3 separate regions of the Homo sapiens genome follow, and regions 1 and 3 are each linked to region 2. Evidence: fine-mapped expression QTL. A gene starts in region 2. Each other region holds a variant in brackets. All regions are shown on one strand. Distances are from middle to middle. Region 1 overlaps CCDC175 (coiled-coil domain containing 175). Region 2 holds the start of RTN1 (reticulon 1). Region 3 overlaps RTN1 (reticulon 1).

What was found. PIP is the estimated chance that this variant, and not a neighbour inherited with it, causes the effect. A credible set is the group of variants that fine-mapping cannot tell apart.
Region 1: its variant is the best candidate, but not a certain one, in a credible set for the expression of RTN1 in whole blood (TOPMed, PIP 0.63).
Region 3: its variant is the best candidate, but not a certain one, in a credible set for the expression of RTN1 in whole blood (GTEx, PIP 0.55).

The regions. Positions count from the first base shown.
Region 1 is chr14:59,563,574-59,568,802 of GRCh38, forward strand. CCDC175 (coiled-coil domain containing 175) reads right to left here. Exons shown (of 20, transcript NM_001164399.2): 4 at 4,672-4,807; 5 at 1,474-1,702; 6 at 164-286. Among named protein-coding and RNA genes, the nearest start is that of CCDC175, 11 kb to the right of the region's middle. The variant C/G (reference allele first, on the strand shown) is at 2,403.
Region 2 is chr14:59,867,833-59,873,061 of GRCh38, forward strand. It overlaps RTN1 (reticulon 1), which reads right to left and starts at 2,944. Exons shown (of 9, transcript NM_021136.3): 1 at 2,558-2,944. The coding sequence starts at 2,798. RefSeq lists a silencer at 2,853-2,952.
Region 3 is chr14:59,796,624-59,801,852 of GRCh38, forward strand. All of the region lies in intron 1 of RTN1 (reticulon 1), which reads right to left. Among named protein-coding and RNA genes, the nearest start is that of RTN1, 72 kb to the right of the region's middle. The variant G/A (reference allele first, on the strand shown) is at 2,991.

The DNA.
Region 1 (5,229 bases), 300 kb before region 2:
GGAAACCACAATTGCACCATAACGCTTTAAAGAAAGTGTCAGAAAATGTTAACGTGCAGAAAACATCCTCTCAGCATGACATGAAGATGAATTACAATCAACTCCTTTTTTATTGAGGTGCCTAGATAAGGCTTAAAAATATATATAGTTTATTCTTTCTTACCGCTGCGGAAACAGTAACTGTTTCTTTTATTTTTGACATTTTAGTTTGTAATTTATCCAATTCTTTCTTCTTTTGATAAGTCTCCATTCTCTTTACTTCACGGGTATTTTCAAATTCATTAATCTATAGTGACAAGCATAAGAAACCAATTTAAAAAGCCTATTAGCACAACAAAGTTTAAAAAATCTTTTAAAAACAGTGTCAACCTAATTCATATTTAATCTAAGTATAACATATTCAAGTATAGTAATAAGTAAAAAATAAACCTAAAAACCAGGGTTTCCTTATTTTGCAGTATCACAGGAAAAAGCATGAGCCACAAAGGCCAAACTGTAATTATTGAATATTGAAATAGTAAATTTGTAAGAGCAATACTAACAATGATTGTTAATAACTAATTATAAAAGTAATTGCCACGGTAGTGATTTAATAGTAAATCACCACAGCAGTGGTGACCGGATTTACAACGTACTAAGCAAACAAGAAGAGTCGAAGGAAGGATTGAAGAAATTATCTGGGAATCTAAATTCACATTATTTAATGGGAAATAAAACCAGCTAAACACAGAGTAAACAAAATCATCAAAGACAGAGCAGCTTGTAATCCTGGAAAACTTCTTACCATTTTATCACAGTGCCACTTGTTAGACCCTAATGAACGATGTCACCCTCTTATCAAAACCACCTCTCCCCCAGTCAACCAGAGCAGAACAAGGAAGAAACAATCATAACAGATCTGATGCTGAATTTTAATTAACATGGCACAGCAGGCAGTTCAGCTCCTGCAGTGGCAGAAAAAGATGCAGTAGTTATCCCTCCCCCACCCTCACAAATTTTGCTGCTCTCGAAACATTGTTTTCTCTTTAAAGCCCTCAGTTCTGCCTGGCCCCACTGCATGCTGCTGCTCTCTCTGATTCATTTATCAGGAACAGCAGGGCTGGGCTGGTGCCCTATCTGAATACCCTAGTCCTGTCCATACAGACACAGTCTCAGGGTTATCAAAGGCAACTGGATAAGATGGTAGCCTATTCCTTGTCCCTGTATGGCAGCATATAAGCAAGGGGACACCCCAGTGTTACAAATCCTGTCACTTATATTCTTACCCATGAACTGAGATGCTGCTACCAATCAAATGTCTTCCCCAAGAGCAGAAGTGTCCTTGAGTCTCCCGCTCATCCCGTTTTCCCAGCGCGTTCACAGAAGATACCACAGAGGCTGCTTGCCAGCCTTGAGGACAAATAAATTATTTCCCATTTCCTGCTCCAGATTCTATACATTATTGTATTTTAAAGAATAAATCATGCCACTTACCTGTGCAGTCAACTCTTGTTTTCTTATTAGATATTCTGCCCTTTCTTTTTCCATTAGCTCCTCTGCCTCTTGAATACATTTTTTTTGCAATGCTATGTCTTCTCTCTTCAAGTTTATTTTGGTATAAGTCTCATTTATGTAAACAGTGGTGGTGGCTTTTTTCTCCATAGTTTGGTTGAGTGACAGGACAAACCTTGCATGCTTCCTTGCTAGCTCTTCCTGCTTCTCCCTGGGAGGAAAGAATTGCTCACAGAGTGAGAAGCACAGCTCCTAAGAAAGGAATAGTCTGTGTGGTGAGAAGAGCCCTCAGCAAGAGGAAAAGTGTAAGGAATACTTATTTTATGACTGTGTTTATGATTGTCTAAACTTGGTTGAAGGCCAGGTGCAGTGGCTCATGCCTGTAATCCTAGCACTTTGGGAGGCCGAGGTGGGCAAATCACCTAAGAGGTCAGGAGTTAGATTGCAGCCTGGCCAACATGGTGAAACCCTGTCTCTACTAAAAATACAAAAATTAGCCGGGGATGGTGGCGTGCTCCTGTAATCCCAGCTACTCGGGAGGCTGAGGCAGGATAATTGCTTGAACCTGGGAGGCAGAGGTTGCAGTGAGCCGAGATCATGCCACTGCACTCTAGCCTGAGTGACAGAGTGAGTCTCTGTCTGAAATTAAAAAAAAAAAATTGAGATGAGGACAGAAGGAAACACAAAACAAGCATCAACCTTGCAACTTTTACCACTTTTGAATGTCACGTGGCCTTGCCTCGCCCCACCCGTCCCCAGATGCCAGGTAGTGACCACAGGGTATTTTGGGTTAAAGTATACAATGACTCAAAAGTAATTTTGAACAGGATCTGAATGGGATCTGGCCAGATGAGTGTTTTGATATGTATTGTCATCATGTCTATCTTATCATCCTGAGATAGGCTGTTAAG[C/G]TAAAGAAAGAGAAATCTCATCACATCTCCAGCCACCCTGGATGCTATAGCCCTGCAGGCAGGGCCCAACAGAAAGCTCACCTTCCTCTGGATAGAAACTAGGGAAAGAAAAGAGTCTATCTTTACTGTTTGAAGGATGCCTGAAACCTAATTTGAGCCCTCTTACCTTCTCCCAGCTGTAGCCAACTCTGAGCTCAATAGGAGTCATTAACCTCACACATCCATTGCGGGCGGTGTCCATCTAAGGAAGACCTTAAGATTGTCTGAGGAAGACCTTAAGATTTTGTCTACCCAGAGGCTAACAACAAAAGGTTTACAAAAGGGACAATTGGTGCCATTTCTCTATTTTCCTTTTTAAAAGCTCCTGCAATGTAAAGACCCTTTTCCTTTTGCTAGTCCTCAAGGCTAGTGAGTTTCAGAGGAATTGTGTTTGAAGGCTCAGGAAAATAAAAGCAGGCTGCTGGGAAGTTTGCTTTCAGAGGTCAAACTCCACAAAAGAAATGCAATAAAAAGAAGTCTAGGTGAGAGGCTCAGTAGGTGGTCAGATAATGGGTGCTTTGTGGATGCAGCAGAGGAAGCCTTCTAAGAATGAATCAACTTGAGGACTGGAGCCTCGGGGAAACAAAGCAAAATAAGTGAAATCAAAAAACCTCACTAGGTGTGTTGTGATGGGCTGAGAAGAAAAGAACACTCACAAACACAGTGTGGAGCCTCAGGAAAACACATTCAAACAGCTGCTCTGTCTGTATCTAGTTTTTGAAATTTGCCCAGGACAGGAGACATACCCACCACCTGTCAGAGTCTGTGAACACTTTGATATTCATTTCTCTTTGAAAAAATGATGCAACAAATGATTGTAGCTTGATGATGCCAACACACCTGCCACCACCTTCTGTTTGTTATTGCCTTTCCGTAAAGATTTGTCTAGAGCAGTGGTTCTCCCAATGTGGTCAGGACCAGCAGCAGCAGCATCACCTGTCAGGAATGCAAATTCTTATCCCCACCGCACTCCTCCCAGATCTGTTAAATCAGCAATTTTGGAAGCAAGTCCCAGTAATTTGTGTTTTAACAAGCCCTCCAGATGATTCTGATGCAAGCTCAAGTTAGAGAATCACTGGTCTATAGGAATGTGATGTTGCTGACCGGTTGATATAAATATCTAGCCTGGGTATTATTTTTCTTGCTATTAGTTTAGGAATAGTCTAGTTTATGTAGCAGGCTCTGGCCATGGTGGCTAGCACGCACCACACACAAATCTGTATTGTGAATCCCCAACAGGGATTAGAGTATGTGGTATTTCTCAAACTTATGTAATCATGAACTTTCTCTTTTGTGGAGCATCTCCCAGCACAGGTGTTCTGAGAGCCTGGTTTGGGATCAATGTCCCTGGGTCTTGAGGTCTCTAGCTGATTTCTGATGTTTATTATCTGGGACACCAGGCAACCCTCTGATTATTTTGGATTCCCAAGAAGACTTTTTTTCCCCTATGATAAGGGCTCTTTGTGAACATTTCTCACTCTGGAAACTAACATGCTGATATTTATGATATTTATTAAAATTTATCAAATTTTCTCATAGGGGTAATTCTTCAAGGGGGCCTATCTTTCAGAATATATCTCTTCCTTTCATGAGCTAGCAAAGTTAAGAGTTGTGATCCCCATTTCACAGATGGAGAAAATGAGGCTCACTAAGAGGTGTCAGATCTTGAGCTATAGGCAGTTTCATATATTATCTCATTTAATTACAGACACAATCTGGAACCCTGTCCTGGGAACCAGCCTCATCCTCAGTCCTTCAGTGGATTACAAATATGACTAAATATCTTCAATGAACTGAACTAGATACAATAGGTCTGGTTTGACATTAGATTTACAATATAATCCCTGCAAGATTTCTTACTTTGGTGGTGGGGGTTTGTAAACTTAATTCTACAAAAATGGAAACTAAACCCATTGTGTGTCTACCTTTGGATGTAGCATTAGAGGTAGTGTGTGATTTACAAACAGTAGTTGCTGCTAGGAAGCTGGATTGCCTCTGAAATATTACAAGCCTCCTGGCTGCTGTGGTTGAAGATTTTCTGCTCTCCTCCTCAGTCCTCTGTAGCCACCACCTTCCCTACCCCATCAGCCTGGGCCATCTCCTACAAGCCATCTTCACCTCTCAACTCGCCCTGCCACAGTTCAGATCAGAGAGTAAACCCCTCCCGACAATTTTCCCACTCCAGCCTCAGACCCCTGCTCCCTCAAATACTGAATATAAGAATACCTACCCCAGAGCTTCATTATATTTTGTCAGGTCAGTTATTTTCTTCTTCAGAAGCTCTATTTCATTCTCTGTCCTTGTAATTCTCATTTTTATTGTATTTATCTCAAAAAGATTTAATCTGCGAGCGTCTCGGACACATTCTTCAAAGTAAGTGGAAATATTACTACATTATTTGAGGAAAAGCACAACTGTAGATACTGACTTTCACGCAAAAAAGCTTTCTTTGAAATATTCTTTTAATAATGTTTTTTATCAAGCATTTCTTACTCCCTTGGTCCCTCTCAATCTTACCTACTAATTATTTCTCTTATTTCTGCTGCTGCTCTGGTAACCAGCTTTCTGTGGGCTTGGATCAATTTCAGACAGGTGCAGTCTGATAGTGCCTGATTCCCGCCCGTTCCATGCACTTCTCACCTCCTGCCTAGGACTTCTGCAACTTCTACATGGGGCTTCTTTATGCACCCACACCCATGCATGTATAACCCAGAAGTACAAGAGGTAGGGCAAGCATCAGACCAGTGATAGACAGGAGCTGGTGCATAAATATTTCTCCCTCTCTCGC
Region 2 (5,229 bases):
TTTTAAAAAAATAAAGCACTCTTCTGCCATGTGGGGACACAGTGAAAAGACAGCTGTGTGTGGACCAGGAAGCAGACCCTGACCAGACACCAAATCTACCTTGATCTTAGATTTCTCAGCTTCTAGCACTGTGAGAAAATAAATTTCTGTTTATAAGCCAAAAAAAAGTAAATTAAGAAATACAGTGTAAAGTAGTGTGCTTAATAGGCATCTCTGATACAATTGAGGGCTCACCTGCTAACTTTGCTTATAGCAATAGAACTGCCAAAATAACAGACCAGGAAGCTGGACAAGATTTGTTTGGAATTTTAAGATCTAGTTATTTATTTATACAGCATTTCTGGCGTTTGAGTCTCTTATAGCAGCACATCCGGTCTACTTAATAAGAAACACAGAGATTTAAGACATTAACCAATCAACAACTATATCAGAAATTCCTTCTAGCCACAATCATAAACTAAAAAATTTCTATATAAATATGCAAAATATGTGCTCCTTCCATCTTTCTTCATTCTTCTCCCATCCAAACGTAGTATCATGTTTGATTTTATTACTATATTTGTTGCCTAGGATAGAAAACCCCAAACACATTCAATAAAGCAAGGTATTTCTATAATAATAATACTAAAAATGCAAAATGCATTGTTATTTACTACAGCCACCTTTCTGTAACAATGCACTGTACATTTTGAAATTGCTAAAAGAGTAAATTTTAAACGCTTTTACCACAAAAAAAAAGTACATGAGATGATGGATTTGTTAGCTAATCATTTGACAATGCAGACATATGTCAAAACATCACACTGTACCCCACAAATATATATTCTAAGCATTTCCTATATAATAACTTTTGTGGATATGTTACTGAGCATGGGGCACTTAGCTTCCTTTTTCTAGTTCACATAATCTTAGTGGCACTAATAGGAGGTGGGTAATGTTTCATAAAGAAACAATTTACTTTGATTACAGTGGATAAAGATTCTGAACTATGAGCAGTCTATCCTCAACAAAGAATGGTAAAGACAAAAACTACCTTCCTTTGTCTATTATCATTTGCCATCTTCTTTTGCAATTATAAAGAGTTTTGTTTTCACTTGGATGCAGAAGTTGAAAGAGAGACTGAGCAGCCATTCTTAGATTTAAATCCTCCCCCACTCCTAGGGATATAATAATTAATATATAACCTTTGGCGTTTGGCGTTGGGGCTTTTGAGTACTTTTCTTTCTTTCTTTTTCTTTTTTCTTATATAGGGTCTCCACTTTTTCTCTTCCTTTCAGGATATTGACAATTTTTATTCAACGCATTCTCCAAACCTCTTTTCCCCAGCTCAGATCTTCTGTACCAGGGCAGTTAATTACGATTACCTTAGACATTCCACATAACCCTTAAGAGAAGCTTACGAAAAGGGGTTTCTTTAAATCAACCACCAAGAGCACACACACCAGTCCCACTCCCCTTCCCCTCCTCTGGGAGCACCCCCCACCCCAGGCCTTCTAGCTCTACATTGCCAAAACTACACAACTCCCACTCCACCATAGCAAAGCTTTCTCAGGAAAGAGCACCACACAGCATCCCCTTTCCTCTCCCTGGAAACAGCGTTAACCAGGCCGGCAGCCTCAAAGCGCGCTTCCTGGATCCTTTGACCAGGATGCGCCAGGGGCCTGGGCTCCCGCTGGACACTGGCGCGCTCAGACTTTGAATAGGGCGTCAGGCGAAGAATGGCCAAACCCAGGGCAATTTCCGGGGTGGGGGGGGGGGGGCGCTTAGACTGCTGGTAAACTGTACCACGTCCACTCACCACCACCCAAGCCCTCCAACCCACAGCCAGGCCCGCCGCACTTAGGACTTGAAGTTTCAATGCTCCCTGCAAGGTGGGGCCATCCGGGCAGCGGCGAAATACAGGTTTTGGGCGGGGGCAGCCACAGCACCCAACCCTCTTGCAAAGCTGTGCCTCCCGAATTAGGGACAAACTCCCTGGGATTTGTTTTCTGCGGGAGAAAAGGCGGAGGGATGTGGGGGGAGTAAGGTGTGGTGGCGATTCGTGGAGGGCAAGGGTAAGGGGCAGTTACAGCCACATCTCTGCCCTGGACAGAGCCGGGTCCAGGGGCCGCGGGCCTGCCCGCCGCTCGGTTGTCAGCATCTCCTGTAGCCGGCGCGCACACTGCGCGCAAACACGCCCCCCAAAATCCCCACAACCTGTCAAACGGGCCCTACAGCTCGGAGCCTCCTGGCAGGAGGGAGAAACTTGTACCCAGACTCGCCAGCAGCCAGAATGCTGCTGTTTGCCTATGAGAACAATTTTTAAAGCGGAAATAATCATGATAATGAAATAAAAGGATCAAAAGCATCTTGACTTTTTCTGAGCCTTTGGGAAAAATAAAATTGTTGTTTTCTACCAGCCCGCGAATATTCCCAGTCGCCCGTGGCGACGCGGGGGTGGGGTCGGCGCTCAAGGCAGAAAGCGCGAGGCAGGTGCCCAGGAGAGCCGCGCAGAAGGGGACTGACTGGGGGGCCCTGGTCCCCGACGCCATTTGAGGGGCAGCGGCGCCCGCCTTACCTGTGGATGCAGTTTCCATGGCAACGGGCGACTGCCGGGCGGGGCCCGAGCCGGCTTCCCGCGACGCCGCTTCCCGGGCCCTGGCGCCCAACCCCGGGCTGGGCTCCCCAGCCTGCGGCGCCGGCGTGGCCCCTTTCGGCGTCACCGCTTCGTTCTCCCCCTCCCCCCGGTGCCTGAGCCACTGGGACCCGGGGCCGGCCAGCGGCAGCAGCTCGTCCTGCGGATCCCCCGGCGCGGCCATGGCTGGCGGTCCCCCGGCGCGGCGACGGCGGCTTGGCTGGGCAGAGGCTCGGTGGCTGCGCGGGCGCTCCCTGCTGCTGTCCCCGGAGGGACTCGGCGCTCAGGGAAGCTGCGGTGTCTCAGCGTCGCCGCCGCCTCTGCTGCAACTCCGCCGAGCCGCTGCCTGCCGCTCTTCCCGCTTCAGCTCCTCCTTCTCCCCCCTCCTCTTCCTCCGGCCCCGCCGCGGCCGCTGCCTGCGCTCCTCCTCCTACTCCACTCGCTGCTGCCGCCGCTGCTTCGCTATTCCCAATCCTGTTATTACGCAGGTGAAAATGGCCTGCTTGGTCCGGGTCCTCCTGGGCACGTCAGCCCCCAACCTGCAAATGGCAGGCCCCGGTTAGGGGATGTGCCAAATCCACTCGAATCTTCCTCTCGTTTGGGGAGGAAAAAAAAGGAAGAACCAGCAAGTAGCAGCAGCCACCAGCAGCGTCGCCTTCCCAACTGAGAAAGTTAAGCCCCGACTGGTGTCCTGGGTCCCGAGGCAAAGAGGGAAAGCTAGAGAACTCAGGGCCACAGTTCTGAGAGTGACCAGTATGAGTTGTGGAGGGGACACAGGTCTGAACGGGGAAGGGGTGGAGATGGGTTCTGATGGCAGATGGAGACCAGGGAAGCTGCAACCCCGCGGTTAAATCCTGCGTTTCCAGAATGGGCCTGAAAATAGTGGAGTAAAGAAATGAGTTATCAGGACAGCCTCCAAAAAAAGCTTAACAGATCTCACCCTGACCAGCCCTGAGGGCAAACAGGGTGTCAATAGGCAAGGACAAAAGCTGTACATTTGCTTTCAGAAACACTGAGCCAAGGCCATCCTAATCATAAGCTGTCTGTGCAGTCCGTTGTATTTCAGAATTTGGACATTCCATGAAGCTTGCATCTTTTTCTTTACAGTTCACTGTGATAAAATGGAAGATAGTCAGCAAATAAACCCAAACTCAGAGGAGGAAAGTGACTTGCCTTATCATATGTTGTGCCCATACGAAGACCCATCTTTTCAAATGTCTTGTGTTTTATTGGTTCCCAAGTTGTTTATATAATAAAATAATGTGCCTTTAAAAACTAAGATTCACCACAACACACAGGGTGAAGGAATAGGTTTTTCTGCTGTTTCTTCTCTAGGAAAGGTGGGCGCAGACGGTACCGCACACACTGTGAGACTGTGGGACTCTTGGCCACCATGCGCATCTTGAGGATTTCATACCTGTCCATTGGTATATTCAAAGGCCAACTTCAGGACCATTCAGGTGCTCCTCAATAATGCTAAAATGAAAAAGCCCAGAGTCTGCCTAATCTTTTGTTCTGCTAGTGCACTAATGTTCAAAAGATGACAATAAATTAGAGAAAAATCATTCACTAAACAATAAATATGGCCTCCTGAAGCCAGATATCCCTGGAAATCTGATGGTCACCAAAATTTTACATTTTTGACATACTCAAAATTATGTCTCATGATGGAAATATTCACTATCTAGATTGTGGTTATAGCTTCACAGGTGCAAACATATGTCAAAACTTATTGTTTACTGTAAATATGAACAATTTAATGTGTTGTCAGTTATAACTCAATAAATCTATAAAAATAATCTCATCCAAAAACAACAAAATAATTGGTTATCATGAATCATAATGATTTTTAAACATCTTTCCATGGGAAAACAAGAGTGTATTTAAAAAACCGTTAAGTTGAAAAGCTTATTCCACTGCTGTATTTCCATGGAGCTTAATCCTGTCTTGTAATTAGAGGGCACTTGTAAGTTTTTTCAAATCTATTACTTAGTATTCCCTAAAGCATCAGAAATACTAGATGGGAATTTCTCATGGTTTTATTACTGATAACAAGACAAGAACATAGACAATTCTAATGATATAACCTTAAAGTGGTTATTGATGAATACTAATATTTGAGAATTGCTATGCAAAGGAGTTACATACAAAATAATATGAAGTATATTCTTTTGTTTCTCTGAGAAACATGAATGAAAGTCATCATTAAAAAACTGGGAGACCTAAGCAAGCCTCTGTGTTTCCTTATGATTAATAGATAGGAAGTTTGGGGATATGATTCTAATTATTTGTCAATTTCTTTCATACTAATCAATACTCTCATTGAGAATGTGTGAAGGAAATAGCCAGTTAAATCTATTTAGAGTGTAGTTGTTAAAGGAAATTGAACATTATTGACAGTTCCATTTTGATAAAGTATTCTATTTTACACTGCTGAAAAGAGATGAGCACAAGATTTCAGTGTTAGCAATTTTCATTACTAACTTTCCTTATTAGACTCCACCTTTGGATGTATAAAAATTATCTATTTGGGGGAAGAAATTTTCAGGTTTATGCTATGACTTGAAATGATTCATGTTTATTAATATTATTTATTTTGCACCGCTCTGAACTGA
Region 3 (5,229 bases), 71 kb before region 2:
TTACATAAACTCCTACCTCACTTTGGAATTATTCATCTCCTCCTGGTCTAATGAACTCATTCTTCAAAATTCAACTCAGATTTCACCTCTATTGTGAAGACAGTTTACCCCAACCTCTGTAAACAGTAGAGGTACTCCTTCCAATTTTCTCCAAAGAAATTATTCTCTGGTTGCATTCATCATGTTATTTCCACCTGTTAATTTACTGATCTCTTTCACCAACTAGATTGTGGGCCCCTGAAGGCGGCGATTTTATCCTGTCTATCTTCATATCCACAGTGCCTAAAATAGTGCCTCACACAAAGTAGGGGTTCAATAAAAGTTTGTTGAGTTAATCAATAAAAGATCAGGTATGTTAAGGTTATATATGAACTCAATTGCAAATTATTATAATCTATGAATAACTTAGTCAAATTCCAAGTGGATCACATGAATTTTCAGAACTTTTCCTTCCATCATTGTTGGAATTAATATAAGCTCTTTGCTTCCATGGATGATTCCTTTGGAAGATTTATTATTTATTTTCTATGAAGCAGTTTGAGCTTCTTATTCTATGTAATAAACTATTGCTAAATGCAAAACAAATCTTCGTCACCACCACTGTACACCATTTTTGAGCAACTTCTATAAGCACAGAGAGTATGGGATAATAATATGGGAAAAATTCCTTTGTCCAACAACAATCTTGGTTTCCCTAATTCCAGTGGGTTATGTGTATTGCAAATGCAACCTATGCCAATTAAAAGATCAGCTTTGAAAGGAGTCAAAGTGGGGAACCAGTGGATTCTGATTCTGAAAAGGCACTGCAATATCTAGCAGTCTTCTGTCCTGTAAAGCTATATAGAAAGCTTTCTCTTTAGTTATTCAAAAGTCCATTGTGCAATCAGTAACCAGAACCTACTATTTAGTAAAAAGAATACTCCAGGGATGCTTCTCAGCATAGTCAAAGAGGTAGCTACCTACATGGCAGGACATTGGTGATATACCAAAACATCTGAATGCCACTAAATATCTGCCCTTGTGACTGGACTCACAGTCTGAAATTCTCATTATTAGAATTATTTCTTTGGTTTAAAGCATTATTTACTCATTCCTTATAAAGAAGTAGAAGTACCAGAGTCATATTAAAGATAAAATTCTGCTGGTTTCATTATTTTGCCTAGCGTCATCTTTGTTAACACTATTGAGGAATAGTGTTTATAGTGTTTGAAAGGCTAAAATCCAACTTGTCTTCATAGCATAAGAAATGTTGACCCAGTGATGCCAACATTTTAAAAGACTTTTAGTCAAATACGAGTTTAGTTAGTAACACTGCCATTGGTCCTTTATAATATCACTTGAGGGGCTTAATGGATTTTATTTTGTGATTTTAGCAGATATAGATTCATAAAAAATTATCCATTTTAACAGAAAGAGCAGAGTCATGATTCTTAGCATCCTCTTATCCTGGGCAAATGGATATAACACCCCTTATTCCAGAGATATACTGTACTATGTTTTTCAAGCAATTGATGTGTCTGAATTTTTCAAAAAATGTGTTAATTCATTTCTCTCCAATGAGGTCAAGTGAATTATGACTTGGCTATACAAACAAGTACAATATTATTCTAAGATTTGGAGGTATATGCCTCAGAGTTCAGATATAGCTCACCACTGACTAATTGCATGAATTTGGGCAAGTTATATCAGCTTATAACTTAATACAAGTTATATCAGCTTGTATATTAATTTCCTATTGCTACTATAACTGTAACAAATTATCACAGATTTAGTGGCTTAAACAACACAAATTTATTACCTTACAGTTATGGAATTCAAAAGGTCCTAAAATCAAGGGGTTAGTAGCATGGGTTCTTTAGGAGGCTCTAAGAGAAAAAGTAGCTGCCTACATTCCTTGGCTTGTGCCCCATTCTCCATCTTCAAAGCCAGCATCATAACATCTCCCAATCTCTCTCTCTCTCTCTGATTAGGATCTCTGCTTCCATGGTCACATCCTCTTACCTGACTCTGATCTTCCTGCCTGCCTCATCTAAGGACTCTTGTGATTACATTGGGCCCGCCTGGATAATCTCAACATTTTAATATTCTTAGCTTAATCACTTCTGCAAAATCTCTTTTGCCATATAATGTAAAATATTAACGGGTTTCAGGGATTAGGACATGGATATCATTTGGTGACAGCAGGGGTGGGGGTGGGGAGACATTATTCTGTTTACCACAGTGTTGAAGTTAATAAATTTACAGATAAAAATTTATTTCAAGTATTAGTGACTTAAAAAGTGACTCAAACTATTAAAATGATATAGGATTCTTAGCACTCCCATAACAGTTAGTGATTTGCTAAGATCTCTTGAAAAACAATTGCCAGATTTTTCAAGCAATCATGTCTGAATTTTTCTAAAAGTGTATTAATTCATTTCTCTACAATTAGGTCAAGTGAATTATGACTTGGTTTCACAAACAAGTGTAGTATTATTTTAAACACGTGATTCGCTACATGCAAGTTAGGGTATTACCTCGTGATTTGAGATGAAAGAAAAGGATTTAAAATTCTTTAAAAGGACATTCAGAAAAAAGGCTAAGGATAGTACACTTAGTCTGAATAAAAACAAAATACCTTATAGAATGAGAATAAACTGGCAAGCCATACTCATCAAATTCCACTCATCACCATAACCATGTAGGATGGAATTCTGCTTCTTAACAAGTGGAAAGCTTCAGGAGAACATCACTCTCCTTTTAACATTGAGGCAAATGTGGATAATCTACAAAATCATCAATTTTCTCAGGGCCATCAGAGAGTTGAGGTAATAAGGCAGCCAAGAGAACTGAATTTCAAAGTCAAAAGCCCTCCCTAGAGAGATGGGACACATGAATTCTTTCACCTTTAATAGAGCATGGAAGAAAGAGACAGCCACCATAATATGATAAATCAAATTTAAATGTGGGCTAATGCATAATTTTAGAATAACTGGGTACCCCAGACACAT[G/A]GAGAGTTCACATTCTTCTCCATGGATTCTCATTTGGTGCTCACAAGAAATATTTGGAAAAGGGCAGGAGAGCAGAGTGTCCTTTGGTGGCATAGGCATTCAGGTCGTGACCAGGTGCCGGGAGGCAAACAAAAAATACTGCCCACTTTGACAGACTCTTCTCTCCTAGGAAAAAAAGCTGTAAGTCACTGGGCTGGGGTTGGCTGGGGGAGAGGATTCCGTACTTTTCAAGAGCTTCCAGAGACACAAGGCAGAGTTTGACAGACAAAGAGGTAGAGGTGCATGAACACTGAAAAAGACTTCCCTTTAAGATCTAGACACAGAGAACTCACCTAAAACTAAAGCTAGATGGGGAGAATTCCTATCTCCACCCCCATAAGCCTGGCAAAAAGTAATAAGCAAAATTAATTTACTGGTGAAAGATGGGCAAGGAAAGAGAACCCCTCCGTGGCACAGATATACAGAGCCTGCTGGAAGCTGAGAGTGAGGCAGGAAAATTGAGAAAAGCCTTCTGGCATTATATGACCACAGAAGCAGAAGGTAACAGTAACCCATTGTGAGAGGAATTTGAAGCCTGTGAGGCAATGAAGGTAACTCTAGAAACAAAATCCCAGCCTAATTCAACCAGACACTGACTCAAACCCCCACCCTAACAGCCTTACATAAGATTAGGGGTATGCTCATTTCTGGGCATAAATGCTATTTGCCTCTTTCTCTATTATTTTTTGATGTTTGGCATTTATTCAAAACTAAAAGGAAACACAAAAATACATCTTTTTGTTGTTGTTGTTTTTGTTTTTGTTTTGAGTCAGAGTCTCACTCTGTCCCCCAGGCTGGAGGGCAGTGGCACGATCTCGGCTCACTGCAAGCTCTGCCTCCAGGGTTCACACCATTCTCCTGCCTCAGCTTCCTGAGTAGCTGGGACTACAGGCGCCCACCACCACGCCTGGCTAACTTCTTACATTTTTAGTAGAGACAGGGTTTCACCGTGTTAGCCAGGATGGTCTCGATTTCCTGACCTCGTGATCTGCCCACCTCAGCCTCCCAAAGTGCTGGGATTACAGGCGTGAGCCACCACACCGGGCCAAAAATACATCTTAAAATAATTATTTAAACAGAGAACATTGTCAAGAGATAAAGCAATCAGTAGAATCAAACTCAGAGGTGACACAGATGTCAGAAATATCATACAGAGAGATTAAAATAACTACGATTAATATAATAAAAGATCTAGAAGAAAATATAAAAGATTAATGAACAGAAAGGAAATTTCACCAGAGGAGTAAAAAATTTTTTTAATATTCTAATGTAAATGCTGGAAATAAAAGATGTAAAAAAAAAAGTCCTTCAAAAAGCTCATCAGCTTACTGGACACAACTGAGGAAAGAATCAGTGAACTAAAAGATAAATAACTAGAAATTGTCCAAGCTGAACACATAGAAAAAGAATGGGGGAGGAAAAAACAAAACACAGCATCCAAGCTCTCTGGGACAACATCAAACAGGTAACATACATGTAATTAGAATCTCAGAAATACAAGGTAGAGCAAAAATAAGGCAGAAAATATTTTAAATGATAACGGCTGAGAACTTTCCAAAATTAATCAAGACAAAAAATCACTGATTCAAGAACCCTAGGAGACTCCAAGCAGGTAAAACAATTTTTTTAAACCAATATGTCTAGATACACCATAGTCAGTCTGCTGAGAACTAAAGACATAGACAAAATCTTCAAGACAAGGAAAAAGAATCATTACAGACAGGGGAGGAAAGATAAGAACTATAACAGCCTTCTTATCAGAAACTATGCAAGCCAGAAGACAACAGAATAGCATATTTAACATACTGAAAGAAAAAAATAGTTAACTGTCAATATAAAATTCTATACTCAGTGAAAACATATCTCAAAAATAATGGCATAATAAAGCCATCATTTCAGACAAACTATAGCAAGGAGAATCACTATCAGCAGCTAGGCAATGGGAGAAAAGTTATAGACAGTTCTGCAGGAAGAAGATAAATTATGAAATTTCATATATATGTAACTACAGATAACTGGCTGAAGGAACAATAGCAAGACTGTATTCTCAACAAAAGCACAAAAGATATGAAGGAGGAATGGAAGTATACTCTTATAAGATTATAACGCTATACATGAGAGATATATTATTAGAAGATGGACTATGATAAGTTAAAGTCTTCTATACTTAGAGAAAATTCCACAATTTTCAGTTCTTCCT